2 separate regions of the Homo sapiens genome follow, and region 1 is linked to region 2. The links come from fine-mapping of genetic effects on gene expression. A gene starts in region 2. The other region holds a variant in brackets. All regions are shown on one strand. Distances are between the middles of the regions.

Region 1 (8,700 bases), 21 kb after region 2:
TCCTCGGGGTCTCCTGCCTCACCCCTGCCGTCCCTCCCTCTCAGCTCCTGCAGGCCTTTTCTGTCCCTTCCTCCTTCCTTTCCTTAAAAAACAACCTTTCTTGTTAGTGCAAAGGTCAGTTTGTATTCATTGTAAACATTTTTAGAAAGACAAGATAAGCCAAGTTTTTATTTTATGATGACGATGATGATGATTTTTAGAGACAGGGTCTTGCAAGCTCTGTCACCCAGGCTGGAACACAGTGGCGCCATCGTAGCTCACTGCAGCCTCAAACTCCTGGGCTCAGATGATCCTCCCGCCACAGCCTCATAAGTAGCTGGGACTACAGGCGAGCACCGCCACACCTGGCTCATGTTTTACTTTTGTAGAGATGGAGATCTTGCATGTTTCCCAGGCTAGTCTCAGGCTCCTGGTCTCAAGCGATCCTCCAGCCTTGGCCTCCCAAAGCACTGGGTTTACAGGTGTAACACACCACACCTGGCTTAAAACAACCTTTTGATTGCTGGCTCATTTCAGTGGAAGGTCAGGTATGATACCTTCATCGTCTCCTGTAAGTTTTCTCCTGATGGTAAATACGTGGTCTCAGGCTTCGACGTGGATCATGGAATCTGCATAATGGACGCCGAGAACATCACCACCGTTTCCGTCATCAAAGGTGAGGGTGTGCGGGCTCCCTGTATCTTCAGTCTGCCATAGGAATAGCCACTTGTCACTGACTGACGGTGACCTTCCATTGCTTTATTTGGTGAAACTGTAATGGTATGAAGCACGTCATTAAAGCTGGGACACTAGGCTAGGTGCGGTGGCTGGGATTGCATCTGTAATCCCAGCACTTTGGGAGGTTGCTTGAGCCCAGGAGTTTGAGACCAGCCTGGGCAACAGGGTGAAACCCTGTCACTACCAAAAACAATACAAAAATTAGCCAGGTGTGATGGCATGCACCTGTAGTCCCAGCTGCTTGAGAGGCTGAAACGGGAGAATCACTTGAACCCGGAGGTGGAGATTGTATTGAGCTGAGATTGAGCCACTGGACTCCAGCCTGGCAGACAGAGTGAGACTCCATCTCAAAAAAACAAACAAACAAACAAAAAACAAACAAACAAACAAAAAAACACACCAAAACTGATCCTCTTCAGTTAATGCTTTTCCATTCATTCAGTCTTGTGCTTTTAACAAAGGACACAATGTTCGGCTCCAACCTCATGTGGTCATTGACAGCCTAATCTTTTATTGAGGGGAGGCTCAGGCTTCTTAACATTAACATTAACAGAGTTAACATTAACAGAGTCTTGCTATGTTGCCCAGGCTGATGTCAAACTCCTGGCCTCGAGGGATCCTCCTGCCTCAGCCTCCCAAAGTGAGGGATTATAGGAGAAGCCCCCTCACCCGGCCTACCTGTATCTTTTTTTTTTTTCTTTTTTGAGATGGAGTCTTGCTCTGTCTCCTAGGCTGGAGTGTAGTGGTGCGATCTCGGGTCACCTCAACCTCCACTTCCTGGGTTCAAGCAATTCTCCTTGCCTCAGCCTTCTGAGTAGCTGGGATTACAGGCACCCACCACCACGCCCAGCTAATTTTTGTATTTTTAGTAGAGATGGGGTTTCACCATGTTGGGCAGGCTGGTCTCGAGCTCCTGACCTCAGGTGATCTGCCCGCCTTGGTCTCCCAAAGTGCTGGGATTACGGGCATGAGCCACTGTGCCCAGCCTATTTTTAAAATATAGGACTTAGTAATTGTTGTATGACAGTTTCCTGGTTGGGACACTGTGTGATGATGATACCACATGTTCCCATGGGGGCTGCTGGGTGAAGGACATGGGTGATTTCTCTGTTATTCCTTACACCTCCATGGGAGTTTACAATTATCTTAAAATTAAAGTTAAAAAAATGTGTAATCATTGTAAAGACATTCATTATGGGCTGGGCGTGGTGGCTCATGCCTGTAATCCCAGCACTTTGGGAGGCCGAGGCTGGTGGATCACCTGAGCTCAAAAGTTCAAGACCAGCCTGGCCAACATGGTGAAACCCTGTCTCTACTAAAAATACAAAAATTAGCCGGGCGTGGTGGCGGGCACCTGTAATCCCAGCTACTCGGGAGGCTGAGGCAGAATTGCTGGAACCCAGGAGGTGGAGGTTGCAGTGAGCCGAAATCGCGCCTCTGCGCTCCAGCCCAGGTGACAGAATGAGGCCCTGTCTCAAAAATAAAAAAATCATTCATTATGTAAATAAAAAAGCAAAAGGCTGCTGTGTCTGTCCTGTCTCCTCCCCAGAGGCACCTGTTATGAACCATACATTGCTGGGCAGTCTTCCTGAACCCTGTGTGTATGCCTGTGCGTACAAGTGTTTGCACACACAACACTGCTTCTCATATGTGCTTTGTGTTTCTTTTTATCGATGTGGCACTATGCCATGTGCACTGCCCCACAGCTTCCCTAATAGCCCCTAAGAGCCCACTTGACACTCTGACCCCACCATGCTTCAGACTCCAGCTTTGCCCCACACTGCTCCATGATCCGGCCCAGGCCTTTGCAAGCACTGTTCCTTCTTCCTGGAGTGCTCTTCCATTTCTGCTTCCCTTGCTGGCTTTTCGGGCCCTTCCTGGACCCCTCAGGGTGGCCAGGCTTATGTTGTCTGGGCCTTGGTGGCCCGTGCACTCATCTCATGATCTGTGGCATGTGGCAGGTCGTTGCCTGGTCCGGGGTGTCTCCTCCATCAGACTGGCAGCTCTGCGGGGGCAGGGAACCTGCTGTGCTCCCGGTTCAAAGCCTGGGACATAGTAGTCACTCAGGAATGTTTGTGCAGGTGTGTAGCTCCTGATGAAAACTGGAATTGTGTTTTGTAATCGTCACTGGCTGGGGAAGTCGTGGGAGTCCTCCAGCCCAGCAGGTGGAAGGCGTGGTCTCAAGTCCCTTTCCTCCGTGTTCTGCAGATCATCACACAAGGTCCATCACGTCATGCTGCTTTGACCCCGACAGCCAGAGGGTGGCTTCTGTCTCATTGGACAGGTGCATCAAGATCTGGGATGTTACATCCCAGGCCACGCTGCTCACCATCACTAAGTGAGTTGGACCCCAGGAGGCCAGAAGGGAGTTTGGGTGGGGCGTCCCCATTCATGACTTCCTGAATTCCACATAAGCCAGCATCCATGTGGACACGTCTGTAGCTTGGTCATAGGTGCTCTGAGGAGGCTGGGGACAGGCAGGCAGGAGGGAGCCATCAGCTGTGGCCTGTGGGCTGGGCTGGGCCTCAGATGCATTTGTTTCAATGTGAGCCACTAGTGGAAATCATTGTGCAGAGAAGTCCACAAAAGGTGAAGTTCCAGCATCTCCTGTAAAATGGGAAGGTCTGGCTGGGCGTGTGGCTCATGGCTATAATCCCAGAGCTTTGGGAGGCCAAAGTGGGAGGATCACTTCAGGCCAGGAGTTCAACACCAGCCTGGGCAATGTCACAAGACCCCATCTCTACAAAAAATTTAAAAATTAGCTGGGTGTGGTGTCACACACCTGTAGTCCCAGCTACTCAGGAGGCTGAGGCTGGAGGATTGCTTGAGCCTAGGAGTTTGAGGCTGCTGTGAGCTATGATTGCACCACTGCACCCCAGCCTGGACAATGAAGTAAGACCCTGTCTAAAAAAAATAAATAAATAAAGTGAATTCAGTCGTTTTGGAGATATTACATTATCATTTAAAAAAATTTTGGGGCTGGGCTCGGTGGCTCATGCCTGTAATCCCAGCACTTTGGGAGGCCGAGTGGGGCGGATCACCTGAGGTCAGGAGTTCGAGACCAGCCTGGTCAACATAGTGAAACCCCACCTCTAGTAAAAATACAAAACTTAGCTGGGCGTGGTGGCGGGCACCTGTAATCCCAGCTATTCAGGAGGCTGAGGAAGGAGAATAGCTTGAATCCGGGAGGTGGAGGTTGCAGTGAGCCAAGATTGTGCCACTGCACTCCAGCCTAGGTGACAGAGTGAGACTCTGTCTCAAAATATATATATATATATATACACGCACACAACATAAAACATGATATTTTAACCATTTTTAAGTGTGCAATTCTCTGCCATTCATTACATTCACAGTGTTGTGC[A/G]ACCATCACCACTATTTATTTCCAAAATGATTTCATCATCTCAGACAGAAGCTCTTACCCGTTAAGCAATAACTCCCCATTCCCCATGCCCCCAGCCCTGGGTAATGTTTATTCTACTTTCTGTCTCTATGAATCTGCCTATTCTAGATATTTCATATAAGTAGAGTCATACATTATTTGTCCTCTTGTGATTAGGTTATTTCACTTAAAATAATGTCCTCAAGGTTCATCTGTGTTGTAGCCTGCATCAGAACATCAGAACTTCATTCCTTTTTTTTCCTTTGAGACTTAGTCTCGCTATGTCCCCCAGGCTGGAGTGCAGTGGTGCCATCTTGGCTCACTGCAACCTCTGCCTCCTGGGTTCAAGTGATTCTCCTGCTTCAGCCTCCTGAGTAGCTGGGATTACAGGCGCCCACCACCACACCTGGCTAATTTCTGTATTATTAGTAGAGACGGGGTTTCATCATGTTGGCCAGGCTGGTCTCAAACTCCTGACCTTGTCATCCACCCACCTCGGCCTCCCACAGTGCTGGGATTAAGAACTTCATTCCTTTTGATGACTGAATAGTACTGCATTATAGGTGTACATACCACATTTTGTTTATCTGTTCATCTGTTGATGACCTCTTAGGCTGTTTCTACCTTTTAGTTATTGGGAATAATGCTGCTATGAACACATGTACATGTAACTTTGAGTTCCTGCTTTCAATTCTTTTTATTTTATTTGATTTCGAGACAGAGTCTTGCTCTGTTGCCCAGGCTGGAGTGCAGTGACGTGATCATAGCTCACTGGAGCCTCGGATTCCTAGGCTCAAGTGATCCTCTTGCCTCAACTTCCTGAGTAGCTGAGACTACAGGTGCACACCACCATGCCTGGCTAATTTTTAAGTTTGTTTTTTTTTTTTTTTTGCAGAAACGGGGTCTCATTATGTCTCCCAAGCTAGTCCTGAACTTCTGAGCTCAAGTGATCCTCTCACTTTGGCCTCCCAAAGTTCTGGGATGACAGGTGTGAGCCACTGCACCTGGCCTGTTTTTAATTCTTTACTCTGTATACCCAGGAGTGGAATTGTTGGATCATATGGTAATACTGTGCTTAGCTTTTTCAGGAGTGGGGATCTTGCTTATTAATTTTGCACTGAGAACTGAAAATGATATAGCCCGACCGACATTATGAATTTTTTAAATCCTCTAGCAAGATCAGCTATATCATTTGCAGGGTGCAATCTCGGCTCGCTGCAACCTCCGCCTCCCGGGTTCAAGCAATTCTCCTGCCTCAGCCTCCCGAGTAGGTGGGACTACAGGCGCCCGCCACCATGCCCAACTAATTTTTGTATTTTTAGTAGAGACAGGGTTTCACCACATTGGCCAGGCTGGTCTCAAACTCCTGACCTTGTGATCCACCCACCTCGGCCTCCCAAAGTGCTGGGATTACAGGCATGAGCCACAGTGCCTGGCCACACTGTGGTTTTCATTTACACTGTCATTCATATTGTTTTTCTCCTATAGGTAAAAAGTCATTTCTCTCTTGCTGCTCTGAAGATATTTTTGTTGTCCTTAGTTTTCTGAAGTGTAATTATGTGTCTGGGTGTAGATTTCTTTGGATTTATCCTGTTGGGTTTTACTCAGATTCTTGAATCTGTAGGTTTATATATTTTGCCAAATTTGGTAAAATTTCAGCCATTTAAAAAAATTACTTTTAAAGTTGACTCCATCTTGTCCAGAACTGTACGTGCAGCATAGCCATTTTCCCCAAACTTCTGTACAGGTGAAATGGCCTTCTACGAGAAGTGGGATTTATGTGAAATGAGAGTCCATAGAGATACCTCTGGTTTATTTATTTATTTATTTATGTATTTATTTATTTAGAAATTGCTATGTCTTTTTTTTTACTTTAAGTTCCAGGACACATGTGCAGAATGTGCAGGTTTGTTACATAGGTACACATGTGCCACGGTGGTTTGCTGCATCTATCAACACGTCATCTAGGTTTTAAGCCCCGCATGTGTTAGGTATTTGCCCTAATGCTCTCCCTCCACTTGCCTCCCACCCCCTGACAGGCCTCAGTGTGTGATGTTCCCCTCCCTGTGTCTATGTGTTCTCACTGTTCAACTCCCACTTATGAATGAGAACGTGTGGTGTTTGGTCTTCTGTTCCTGTGTTAGTTTGCTGAGGATGATGTCCCTGCAAAGGACATGATCTCATTCTTTCTCATGGCTGCATAGTATTCCATGGTGTATATGTACCACATTTTCTTTATCCGGTCTATCATTGATGGGCATTTGGGTTGACACGAAGTCTTTGCTATTGTGAATAATGCTGCAATAAACATACGTGTGCATGTGTATTTATAGAAGAATGATTTATAATCCTCTGGGTATACCTCTGGTTTAAACCTCAATGACAGTGTCTGGCTGCTGGGAGAGCTTGCAGTCAAACCTCCATGATATGCCAGCATGGTTCTTAGCTCACCAGGCACTGGGAATTGGTGAGGTTTATCCCGGATGGCCCTGCGAAGTTGACATTTCTTCTCCTTTGGCGTTGCTCAGTTTGTGCCTTTCAAAGAACCAAAATGGGTTCCAAAACTCTGATCTGAGCTCTAGAAAATTGTTTTGCTCAACCTTTTCTTCAGGTCAAATGATTGATTTTATGATCCAGGCTACTCAGAGAAAACTCTGCTTACAAGAGGAGGTGAGAATCACAGGAGAAAGACATTGAGGGTTACAAACAAAAAGTGGCAAAATACAGACAGGCTTTTTATTATTATTATTTTTCTGAAAAAGAAGATGCTTAAAAATTGGAATGAATAACTTCATTTTTTTTCTGAGATAGAGTCTTGCACTGTTGCCCAGGCTGGAGTGCAATGGCACAATCTTGGCTCACTGCAACCTCCACCTCCTGGGTTCAAGTGATTCTCCTGCCTCAGCCTCCAGAGTAGCTGGGACTACAGGCATGTGCCACCATGCCCAGCTAATTTTTATATTTTTTGTAGAGATGGGGTCTTGCTATGTTGCCCAGGCTGGTGTCAAAATCCTGGGCTCAAGCAATCCTTCCACCTAGGCCTCCCAAAGTGCTGGGATTATAGGCATGAGCCACTGCACCCAGCCAAATAACCCACAATTTTATTAATTAAATATACAACACTGAAATATACTTGAATAGCACTGAAGACAAATGAGGATAGGAGTGAGAAAAAGGGAGAGTGAATAGTTGGGGTGGAGAAGCAGAGGAGTAAGTAAGAGAGGGGTGGAACAGGGGGAGACCACGCCTGACATTGTTGGGGGAAAGATGGGGAGCAGGAGAGAGCCTCTGTGTAAGCGCCACCCAGCACCAAGCCCCAAAGGCTGTCTGTCAATCAATCACTCCTGACACCAGCTGCTTTTCCCTCCAGCGCCAAGGGAATACTGCAGAATCTTCCCAAATGAGGGCAATTTGTGCCCCAGTGGACATTTGACAATGTCTGGACTCATGTTTTGTTGTCACAACTGGGTGTGGGGGTTCCTGGCATCTAGCCAGGAGAGGCCAGGGATGCTGCTCCACCTCCTACAGAACACAGGACGGCCCCCACAACTCTGAGTGACCCAGCTCAAAATGTCCACCTTGGTGTGGTTGGCCCAGTGCCGTGGCTCACGCCTGTAATCCCAGCACTACTTTGGGAGGCCAAGGCAGGTGGACCACTAGAGCCTAGGAGTTTGAGAGCAGCCTGGGTAACATAGCGAAACACTGTCTCTATTATTATTTTTCTAAAAATTGGTGCAGTCGAGAAATGCTGGAACAGCGTGACAGTCTGAGCAATTCACATCTGGACCATGGTAGGCAGTGATCAAAGGCATGATGAACATGAGCTCACAGGAGATGCTGACCCCCACTTAGGTATGTCTTCAGGTCCTCTTGGGGCGAAGTGCTAGCATGTGCAGCCCGACCATGAGCTCACAGGAGAAAATACCCCCGGCTTTAGGTATGTCTTCAGGTCCTCCAGGAGCAAAGCGCTAATGTGTGCACCCCACCATCTGTGTTTCAGGGCACATTCCAATGCAATCTCAAACTGCTGTTTTACCTTCAGTGGCCATTTCCTGTGTACAAGCTCCTGGGATAAAAACTTAAAAATATGGAACGTCCACACAGGGGAGTTTCGAAACTGTGGAGCCTGTGTGACTCTGATGCAGGGCCATGAAGGTTCTGTCAGTTCCTGTCACTTTGCCAGAGACAGTGAGTAATTAACATGCAGAAGGCCTCCATTCCTGTGGGAGTGCTGGGCAGAGTTCTCCATGTTCCGTTCAAATGGACAGAGAGGCAATTTCCAATGATGCTGACAGGGAGGGCGGATTCTTCCCCACGAGAACAAAAAACCCAAGAGGGAAGACCACAGGTACCAGTTTACAGTGGTAGAAACTCAGCTCAATGTGGCGTATGCAACCAAAGAAATTGATTAATCCTGTAATGGAAAAGTCCAAGAGCACGTCTGACTTCAGGCATGGATGGGACAAGAGAGTCAATGCTGTTGGGAACCCAACCCTTCCACTCTGTCTTTCAACCTAGCTTCCCTCTGTATCAGCCTTTACCCCCAAGGAGGCAAAGATGGCCGGATGAGGTGCCTTATGCCTGTAATCCCAATGCTTTGG
Region 2 (8,700 bases):
GGGAGGATCTGTTGAGCCCGGGAGTTGGAGGTTGCAGTGAGCCACTATCGTACCACTACACTCCAGCCTGGGTGATAGAGCAAGACCCTCTCCCTAAAAGAAAAAAAAAAATGTGTGTATTAACTAGGCTTTTTAAAAAGTTTGAATATCTAATTATGTAAGTGATATGTGAATATATTATCATTATGAAAATTCAGGCCAGGCGCGGTGGCTCATGCCTGTAATCCCAGCACTTTGGGAGGCCGAGGCGGGTGGATCACAAGGTCAGGAGCTCGAGACCATCCTGGCTAACACAGAGAAACCCCGTCTCTACTAAAAATACAAAAATTAGCTGGGCGTGGAGCGTGTGCCTGTAGTTCCAGCTGCTGGGGAGGCTGAGGCAGGAGAATGGCGTCAACCTGGGAGGCGGAGCTTGCAGTGAGCCGAGATTGTGCCACTGCCCTCCAGCCTGGGCGACAGAGCGAGACTCTTGTCTCAATAAAAAAAAAAAAAAAAAGAAAAGAAAATTCAGACCTTACAGCCAATGCTTAAAGGAGCCCTGACTAGTTCTCCAAACCTCTACTTTCTCCACAGTAACTTCTGCCATCAGTTTCATATGTAACCTTTAAGACCTTTTTTGTGCAACCACACACACACACATACACACTCACGTACATGGATGCACATACACATTGTTTGTTTCTTTTTTAGACGAGTCTCGTTCTGTCACCCAGGCTGGAGTGCAGTGGTGCGATCTTGGCTCAGTGCAACCTCTGCCTCCCGGGTTCAAGCAGTTCTCCTACCTCAGCCTCCCAAGCAACTGGGATTACAGGCACCCGCCCCCACACCCAGCTAATTTTTGTATTTTGTATTTTTTTAGTAGAGACAGTGTTTCGTCATGTTGGCCAGGCTGGTCTCAAACTCCTGACCTCAGGTGATACACCCACCTTGGCCTCTGAGTGCCAGGATTACAGGTGTGAACCACCATGCCTGGCCTATATACAGATTTTTGTGCACATTTTAAATATAAGTAATATAATTTTATATAGCATATATTTATAGGGTATGAATTTTATTTTATTTTTTGAGACAGAGTCTCGCTCTGTGACCCAGGCTGGAGTGCAGTGGCCTGATCACAGCTCACTGTAAACTCTGCCTCTCCGGCTCAAGGGATCCTCCCACCTCAGCCTTCAGAGTAGCTGGGACTGTAAGTGTGCACCACCACACCCAGCTAATTTTTTTAAAAAATCATTTTTTTTGAGACAGAGTCTTGCTCTGTCACCCAAGCTGGAGTGCAGTGGCGCGATCTTGGCTCACTGCAAGCTCCACCTCCTGGGTTCACGCCATTCTCCTGCCTCAGCCTCCTGAGTAGCTGGGACTACAGGTACCCGCCACCACGTCCAGCTAATTTTTTGTATATTTAGTAGAGACGGGGTTTCACCGTGTTAGCCAGGATGGTCTCAATCTCCTGACCTGGTGATCCGCCTGCCTTGGCCTCCCAAAGTGCCGGGATTACAGGCGTGAGCCACCACACCCGGCCTAAAAAAATCTTTTTTGTAGAGATGGGATCTCCTATGTTGCCCAAACTGGTCTCGAACTCCTGGCCTCAAGTGATCCTCCTGCCTCAGCCTCAGGCGTGAGCCGCTGCGCAGGCCTGCTCTTGCCAGTTTTATCTTTATTGGGAAGAAGGGTGTTGTGTGAATTCTTTGAGTGTCTGGCTTCTGAGATTCCTTCAGATGATGGTAGGCAGCAGTGAGGGGCTTGTAGTCATTGCTGTGGAAGATTCCTTCTTGTGAGCACACCACGGTATGTTTATCTCTTCTGTTGTGTGGATACTGGGTTTTTTACTTTGAGTCTGTGGAGCAGGGATTTTCAGCCAGTGTGACCCAGCTCTGTTTCAAATAGAACTGCCACGAACATTCCTATATGTATGAAATTCAGATTTAGGCCAGGTGCGGTATCTCACGTCTGTAATCCCAGCACTCTGGGAGGCCGAGGCAGGCGGATCATGAGGTCAGGAAATCGAGACTATCCTGGTTAACACAATGAAACCCCAAACCCCATCTCTACTAAAAAAACTAGCCAGGCGTGGTGGCACGTGCCTGTAGTCCCAGCTACTCAGGAGGTGGAGGCAGGAGAATCGCTTGAACCTGGGAGGTGGAGGTTGCAGTGAACCGAGATCGCGCCACTGTACTCCAGCCTGGGTGACAGAGACTCTGTCTCAAAAAAAAAAAAAGAAAAGAAATTCAGATTTAAGACTGACAACTTGGGGGCTGGGCATGGTGGCTCATGCCTGTAATCCCAATACCTTGGGAGGTCAAGATGGGAGGATCGCTTGAGCCCAGGAGTTCAAGACCAGCTCGGGTAATATAGGGAGACCCTGTCTCTATAAAAAAATTAAAAAAAAAAAAAAGACAACTTGGATGCTTTGGGCCCTGGAGTGAATGTATTTTAGTTCCTTCCCAAGGGTCATGCAACGGATGCGGTAGGTGAGTGAAACTGAGATTAAAAATTGCTTGTATTCTCAAGGCTAAATAAGACTAGGGAAAAAAGTTGCTTTTATAAGTGGTCTTAATACGAGGTGTGGGTGAGTGAGTCTCTGTGTGTTTTCAGGGTAATAGAAGAAGCATTTTAAGAACACAGATTGGCCGGGTACGGTGGCTCATGCCTGTAATCCCAGCACTTTGGGAGGCCGAGGCGGGCAGATCACAGTCAGGAGTTCGAAACAAGCCTGGCCAACATGGTGAAACCCCATCTGTACTAAAAATACAAAAATTAGCTGGGTATGGTGGCATGTGCCTGTAATCCCAGCTACTCTGGAGGCTGAGGCAGGAGACTTGCTTAAACCTGGGAGGCGGAGGTTGCAGTGAGCTGAGATCGCACCACTGCGCTCCAGCCTGGGCGACAAAAGTGAGACTCCATCTCGGGGGAAAAAAAAAAAAAAGCACAGATTAGGCAGTACTTCATTGTGGGTTATTGTGAGTGCATTTTGTAGGTGCAGACATGCTGCTGTGATATGGGGAGGCCTGGCATTCTCAGCCTCCACGGAGCTGTTTGGTTTTTCACTTTAGCTAACTTTCCATTTCTCTCTTTTCTGTTTTCTTTTCCAGGCTGAAAAGTCTTCCACTAAGAAGGCAGTAATTGAATGCTGCCCTGGCTCGTCCTAGAATCATTTCTCCTCCATGATGGAAGCCCAGTGATTGTTCAGTTAACGCATTGTACAGAGTGTATTTATATGTAAATTCCTGCTGTAAAATAATTTTTAAAACCTTGACATTTCAAAGACTGCCTTGAAAGGTCGCAGAAATTGATTTCTATTTTTAATTTCAGTTAGTATCGGGGGAAAAAAATCCAGACTGAACAGTTTAATTAAAGTGGAATTTTTCTATTTTCTTCTTGATTTTTAAAAAATTTCCTGGGACGTTAAAAAAGAAGTTAAAAGTGAAGGCTTCTCTCTGGTTTTGTGATGAAGACAGCCTGGACTCACTGAAGGACAAGCGTGTGAGAAGGGGCGGTTGCGGCCCCTCCTGCCGTTTTTTGGGAGTGAAGCTCTTCCCTCTCTGGGTGGCTGGGTTACTGTTGGTGCCCAGGAAGCCCCATGGGAGGGCAGAGCCAGGGCCTGGCAGGGGGCCTCAGCCTCTCAGGGTAGATGTCACTAAAGTGTCTGAGACAGGCAGGGAAACCAGGCAGGAGAATGTGCACCCACAGCCTGGGTTACACGGCTGCAGCTCCCTGCTCTGAGGCCACCTCATGTGTACCAAGGAGACCTTTTTGAAAAATAAAGTGCAGACCAGGTGTGATGGCTAATGCCTGTAATCCCAGAGCTTTGGGAGGCCGAGGCGGGAGGATTGCTTGAGCCCAGGAATTCCAGACCAGCCTGGGCCACATAGAGACCCCTGTCTCCACAAAAAATAAAGTATTGAGCATTTGTATTTTACATTATGAAAGTAGCATCATAGATCACAACAATTTTAAAAGCAGAAAGAAGGAAGAGGCCGGGTGCGGTGGCCCATGCTTGTAATCCCAGCACTTTGGGAGGCCGAGGCCAGCGGATCACTTGAGGCCAGGAGTTCAAAAACAGCCTGGCCAACATGGCGAAACCTTGTCTCTACTAAAAATACAAAAAAATTAGCCAGGTCTGGTGAGCATACACCTGTAATCCCAGCTGTGTGGGAGGCTGAGGCACGAGAATCCTTTGAACCCTGGAGGTGGAGGTTGCAGTGAGCCGAAATTGCGCTACTGCAATCCAGCCTGGGTGACAGACTCTTGTCTCCACCAAAAAAAAAAAAAAAAAAAAAGAAGGAAGAAAATCACTTTTAGTTTTATCATCCAAAGATGACACCCTTCTTCAATATTTTGAATAATTCCACCCTGTCCTTTTCTAGCTATGGGGCTGTTATCTGACTGGTGGTAGCATTTTATTCCCTGTCACTGTTGTTGGGGTTGTGACAGATATTTCCCTCATCTATTATAAATGTTGTAAACCCACCCCTAATAACTGCATCTTATTTCATGCAGGGGCTACCCCATAACTTACTGACCTTTTCTGTTTTGTCATGAAGTGGGTTGGCCAGGAGCTGTACCCAGGCAGAGGACATGAAGAAATTGCCCTGTGACAGGAGCCAGGGAAACCACAGCGGAGGGCTGGAGGCTGGGGTGCTGGTTTTGCTGGCTCGGCCTGGTTCCCAGAATGCAAAGCCCATTTTTCTTTTTTTTGCAACCTCCACCTCCTGGGTTCAAGCCATTCCCCTGCCTCAGCCTCCCATGTAGCTGGAACTACAGGCGCACGCCCCCATGCCTGGCTAATTTTTGTTATTATTTTTTTTAAGTAAAGATGGGGTTTCACTAAACCTGTTGGCCAGGCTGGTCTCCAACTCCTGACCTCAGGTAATCCGCCCGCCTCGGCCTCCCAAAGTGCCGGGATTACAGGCGTGAGCCACCGCGCCCGGCTGCAAAGCCCATTTTTCTATAGGTAACCTGTGCTGCGCGGGGTGGCACTAGTTTTCACCCAGCGGGCGAGGAGGCAGCGAAGTCGCGGGCCCAGCGTAGCGCGCGCCTCCGAAGGGCTTGGTGCGGGCGCGGGCGCGGGCGCGCGGCGCCACCGTTCCCATCCAGGCTTGTCGGCGGCCACCGGCGGACCGGGCTTCGAGATGGCCTCCCCGCCGCGGTGCTCCCCGACAGCCCATGACAGGGAATGCAAGTTGCCGCCACCCTCCGCCCCCGCCAGCGAGTATTGTCCCGGCAAGCTGTCCTGGGGGACCATGGCGAGGGCCTTAGGCCGCTTCAAGCTGTCGATCCCGCACACGCACCTGCTGGCCACCCTCGACCCCCTGGCCTTGGACAGGGAACCACCACCGCATCTGTTGCCTGAGAAGCACCAGGTGCCGGAGAAATTGATCTGGGGCGACCAGGACCCTCTCTCCAAGGTCAGAACCGCCGCTGGGGTGAGGGGGCACTGGCCTGTTCCCCACACGGGAGGAAGGCGCTCGAGCTGTCGGGGGACCCATGGAAAACCCACCTGGCTTCACCAGGACCCCCAGCGAGGCCCTAGGCCCATTTCCCCATCTGTGGTACATCTGTGGGCAAAGGTCAGACCCACCTGAGCAGGGCGTGCTGGGGATGCCGGCGGGGGCTCCCCGCACTGCCACCTGCTGGGGAACCAGGACTCTTCGCTGGGAGGAGGCTCTGCCCCACCATGTGACCCCATCTAGACCTTGGAGTCTCCGTAGGTAGGCCCACCCACAGTGATGCTCCTAATTGCAGCCCAAGGGTCGGTGGCTCAGCTCTCCCCGTCCAGGAGATACAGTTAGCGTCAGAAGAAACGGGAAACTCAGAATAATAATAACAACAATGAATTGGGCCAGGCAAGGTGGCTCACACCTGTAATCCCAGCCCTTTGGGAGGCCCAGGTGGGAGGATCACTTGAGCCCAGGAGTTTGAGACCAGCCTGGGCAACATAGTGAGAGGTCGTCTCTACAAGAAATAAACTTAGCCCAGTGTGATGGGGCGCACCTGTGGTCCCAGCCACTTGAAAGGCTGAGGCAAGAGGATCCCTTGAACCCAGGAGTTTAAGGCTGCAGTGAGCTATGATTGTGCCACTGCACTCCAGCCTGGGCAACAGAGCGAGACTGTCTCCAGAATAAATAAATAAATAAATAAATAAATAAATAAATAAATATAGAGAGAGAGAGAGAAAGAAAGAAAGAAAAAGAAAAAGAAAGAAAGAAGGAGAAAGAAAGAAAAACTGGCTGGGTGCAGTGGCTCATGTCTGTAATCCCAGCACTTTGGGAAGCCGAGATGAGCAGATCACTTGAGGTCAAGGGTTCGAGACCAGCCTGGCTAACATGGTGAAACCCTTTCTCTACTAAAAATGCAAAAATTAGCCAGGCATGGTGGTGCGTGCCTGTAATCCCAGCTACTCAGGAGGCTGAGGCAGCAAGATCATTTGAACCCGGGAGGCAGAGGTTGCAGTGAGCTGAGATCATCTCACTCCATCTCAAAAACAAAACAAAACAAAAACCCAATAAAGAACATTCTCAATAAGTAGCGTTTCATGCTTGGCCTTGATTTATTGCACTCACATGCAGATGTCAGAGTGTGTTTTTAATAATTTCCTCGAAACCTCTGCCTGGCTTCCCAGCATGTTTAAGATGAAGTCTGGCGATCTGCCTGTGGCCTTCCAGGCCATTTCAAATCTGGCACCTCTCCATGTTCTCCTCCCCCATCCCCCTGTCTTGCTGACCTACAAGCAGGTCTGGCCTCAGGGATCTTGGCGGTTCCCTGCCCCCACGGTATTGCGCTCTTGGGGAGGCCCTCCCTGACCGCCCGTCTAAAGTAGCCAGGGCCACTGTCTCCTCCGTGCCTCATGCCATGGTCTGACATCCCCGTTCCGTCCTCAAGGTGTCCTCTGGCTGCCAGCAACTGGCCCCTCGAGGTTAGGGACTTTGCTCCTAGGTGGCTGCTGAGCTGCAGCATCAGGTCCAGGCCCCATGGGGGAGGAGGCTCTTGAGGTTTATTTGTGGAATATGTGAATGAACGCTACGCATAGAAGAACCGTTTTGTTTTTGCTCTGTCCTCTGCATGAGCTTTGTCAGCACCTCTGAAATGTACTCATGTGTTGGGGACTTCTCTCTGCAGCCCCTGGGACCCCTTTACCTAGTGGATCCCAAGGGACTGTGTGCAGAAAAAAACCTGAAACGAGAGCCCCAGAAAAGCCTGTGGTGGGGGTAGCGGAATGGTTCCCCCCTCTTGCTAATGTTTTTCCATGATGGAGTTCTAGGTTTTTTGTTTTCCTATTTTTTAAATTAAATTATATATTTTTTAAATTATTAATTTTAATTTTGATTTTTTTTGTAGAGAGGGGGAGTCTCGCCATGTTGCCCAGGCTGGTCTTAAACTCCTGGCCTCAAGCAATCCTCACTCCTGGGCCTCCCAAAGCACTGGAATTGCATGCGTGAGCCACTGCACCCAGCCAATTTAATTTCAATTTTTAATGATAGTTGGGTTTTCCTAATGAGAGAGATAACCCAAACCCTGCAGGGGCGGCAGGGGCTGGGGTCGCCAGAGGCGGGGGCGGTGCGGGAGGGCCGCGCAGGTCATGTCCCGGGGACTGGGGCCGCTCCTGGGGTAGGGAGCCAACCCTGCACGCGCGGCCCCGGCCTGGCCCGACGGGGTTAGCGAACTCCCCCGGAGAAAAGCCCGGTCCCAGCTCTCCACGCTCCCTGGCAACGGAGCCCGCGTTCCAGTGTCCTCGTGTCCCCGAGCCCCCTAGAGGCGGGGTATCATCTCATCCCCTGCATCTCCACCTGCACGTCCCCGACACCCCCCCCCCCGCCCCGCATCACCTGCAACCGGAAGGCCACCGCCGCCCTGAACCGTCGCATCCCCTCACCCCTGTCCTCCTGCCAACTCAGCCCAGCACCCTGACACTGCCTTCCAGGCCACACCCCTGGTCTTGCCTCCAACATTTCCCCCACCCCCACACTTCCGCAGCTCAACCTGGGACGTGTCGCCATGCGCGAGCTGGGGTGGGTGGGTGGGGGGGGTGACATCTTCAGGCTTCCCTGCTCTGTCCTCTTTTTTTCCCCCCAGTTTTACTGAGATATAATTCACGTACCATATAATTTAACCATAGAAGCTGTAGTGGTTTCTAGGGTATTCAGAGTACTGTACTCCCCAGTTCCCCAATACCCATCCTGCCGACACCAGGCAATTCTGCTTTCTGTCCATAGATTTGTCTATTCTAGACCTTTTATAGCGATAGAATCAAGCCATACGTGGTCTCTTGTGACTGGCTTCATTTCCTTAGCTAACGTCCTCAAGGTTCATCCATGTTGTAGCCTGTAGCAGTGCTCCCTTCCCTTTTCATTACCAAGTAATATTCTGTTGCATGGCCATGACACATTTTCTCTTTCTTTGAGATGGAGTCTCGCTCTGTTGCCCAGGCTGGAGTGCAGTGGCGTGATCTTGGCTCACTGCAGCCTCTGCCTCCCAGGTTCAAGCGATTCTCCAGTCTCAGTCTCCCAGTAGCTGGGCTTACAGGCATGTGCCACCATGCCCGGCTAATTTTTGTACTTTTAGTAGAGACGGGGTTTCACCATGTTGGCCAGGCTGGTCTTGAACTCCTGGCCTCAGGTGATCCACCCACCTTGGCCTCCCAAAGTGCTGGGATTACAGGCGTGAGCCACTGCGCCTGGCCGAACCGCCCGTTTTTCAAAGTGG

What was found.
Region 1: its variant is fine-mapped to the expression of WDR88 in stomach (GTEx, PIP 0.95).

Annotation. Positions count from the first base shown.
Region 1 is chr19:33,148,256-33,156,955 of GRCh38, forward strand. It overlaps WDR88 (WD repeat domain 88), which reads left to right. Exons shown (of 11, transcript NM_173479.4): 5 at 517-655; 6 at 2,926-3,055; 7 at 8,100-8,287. Among named protein-coding and RNA genes, the nearest start is that of WDR88, 20 kb to the left of the region's middle. RefSeq lists an enhancer at 3,027-3,196 and a cis regulatory region at 3,112. The variant A/G (reference allele first, on the strand shown) is at 4,082.
Region 2 is chr19:33,127,041-33,135,740 of GRCh38, forward strand. It overlaps WDR88 (WD repeat domain 88), which reads left to right and starts at 5,074. Exons shown (of 11, transcript NM_173479.4): 1 at 5,074-5,405. The coding sequence starts at 5,130. It overlaps GPATCH1 (G-patch domain containing 1), which reads left to right. Exons shown (of 20, transcript NM_018025.3): 20 at 3,090-3,502. The coding sequence ends at 3,120. RefSeq lists enhancers at 273-442, 4,911-5,080, 7,918-7,967 and silencers at 2,009-2,153, 7,718-7,837.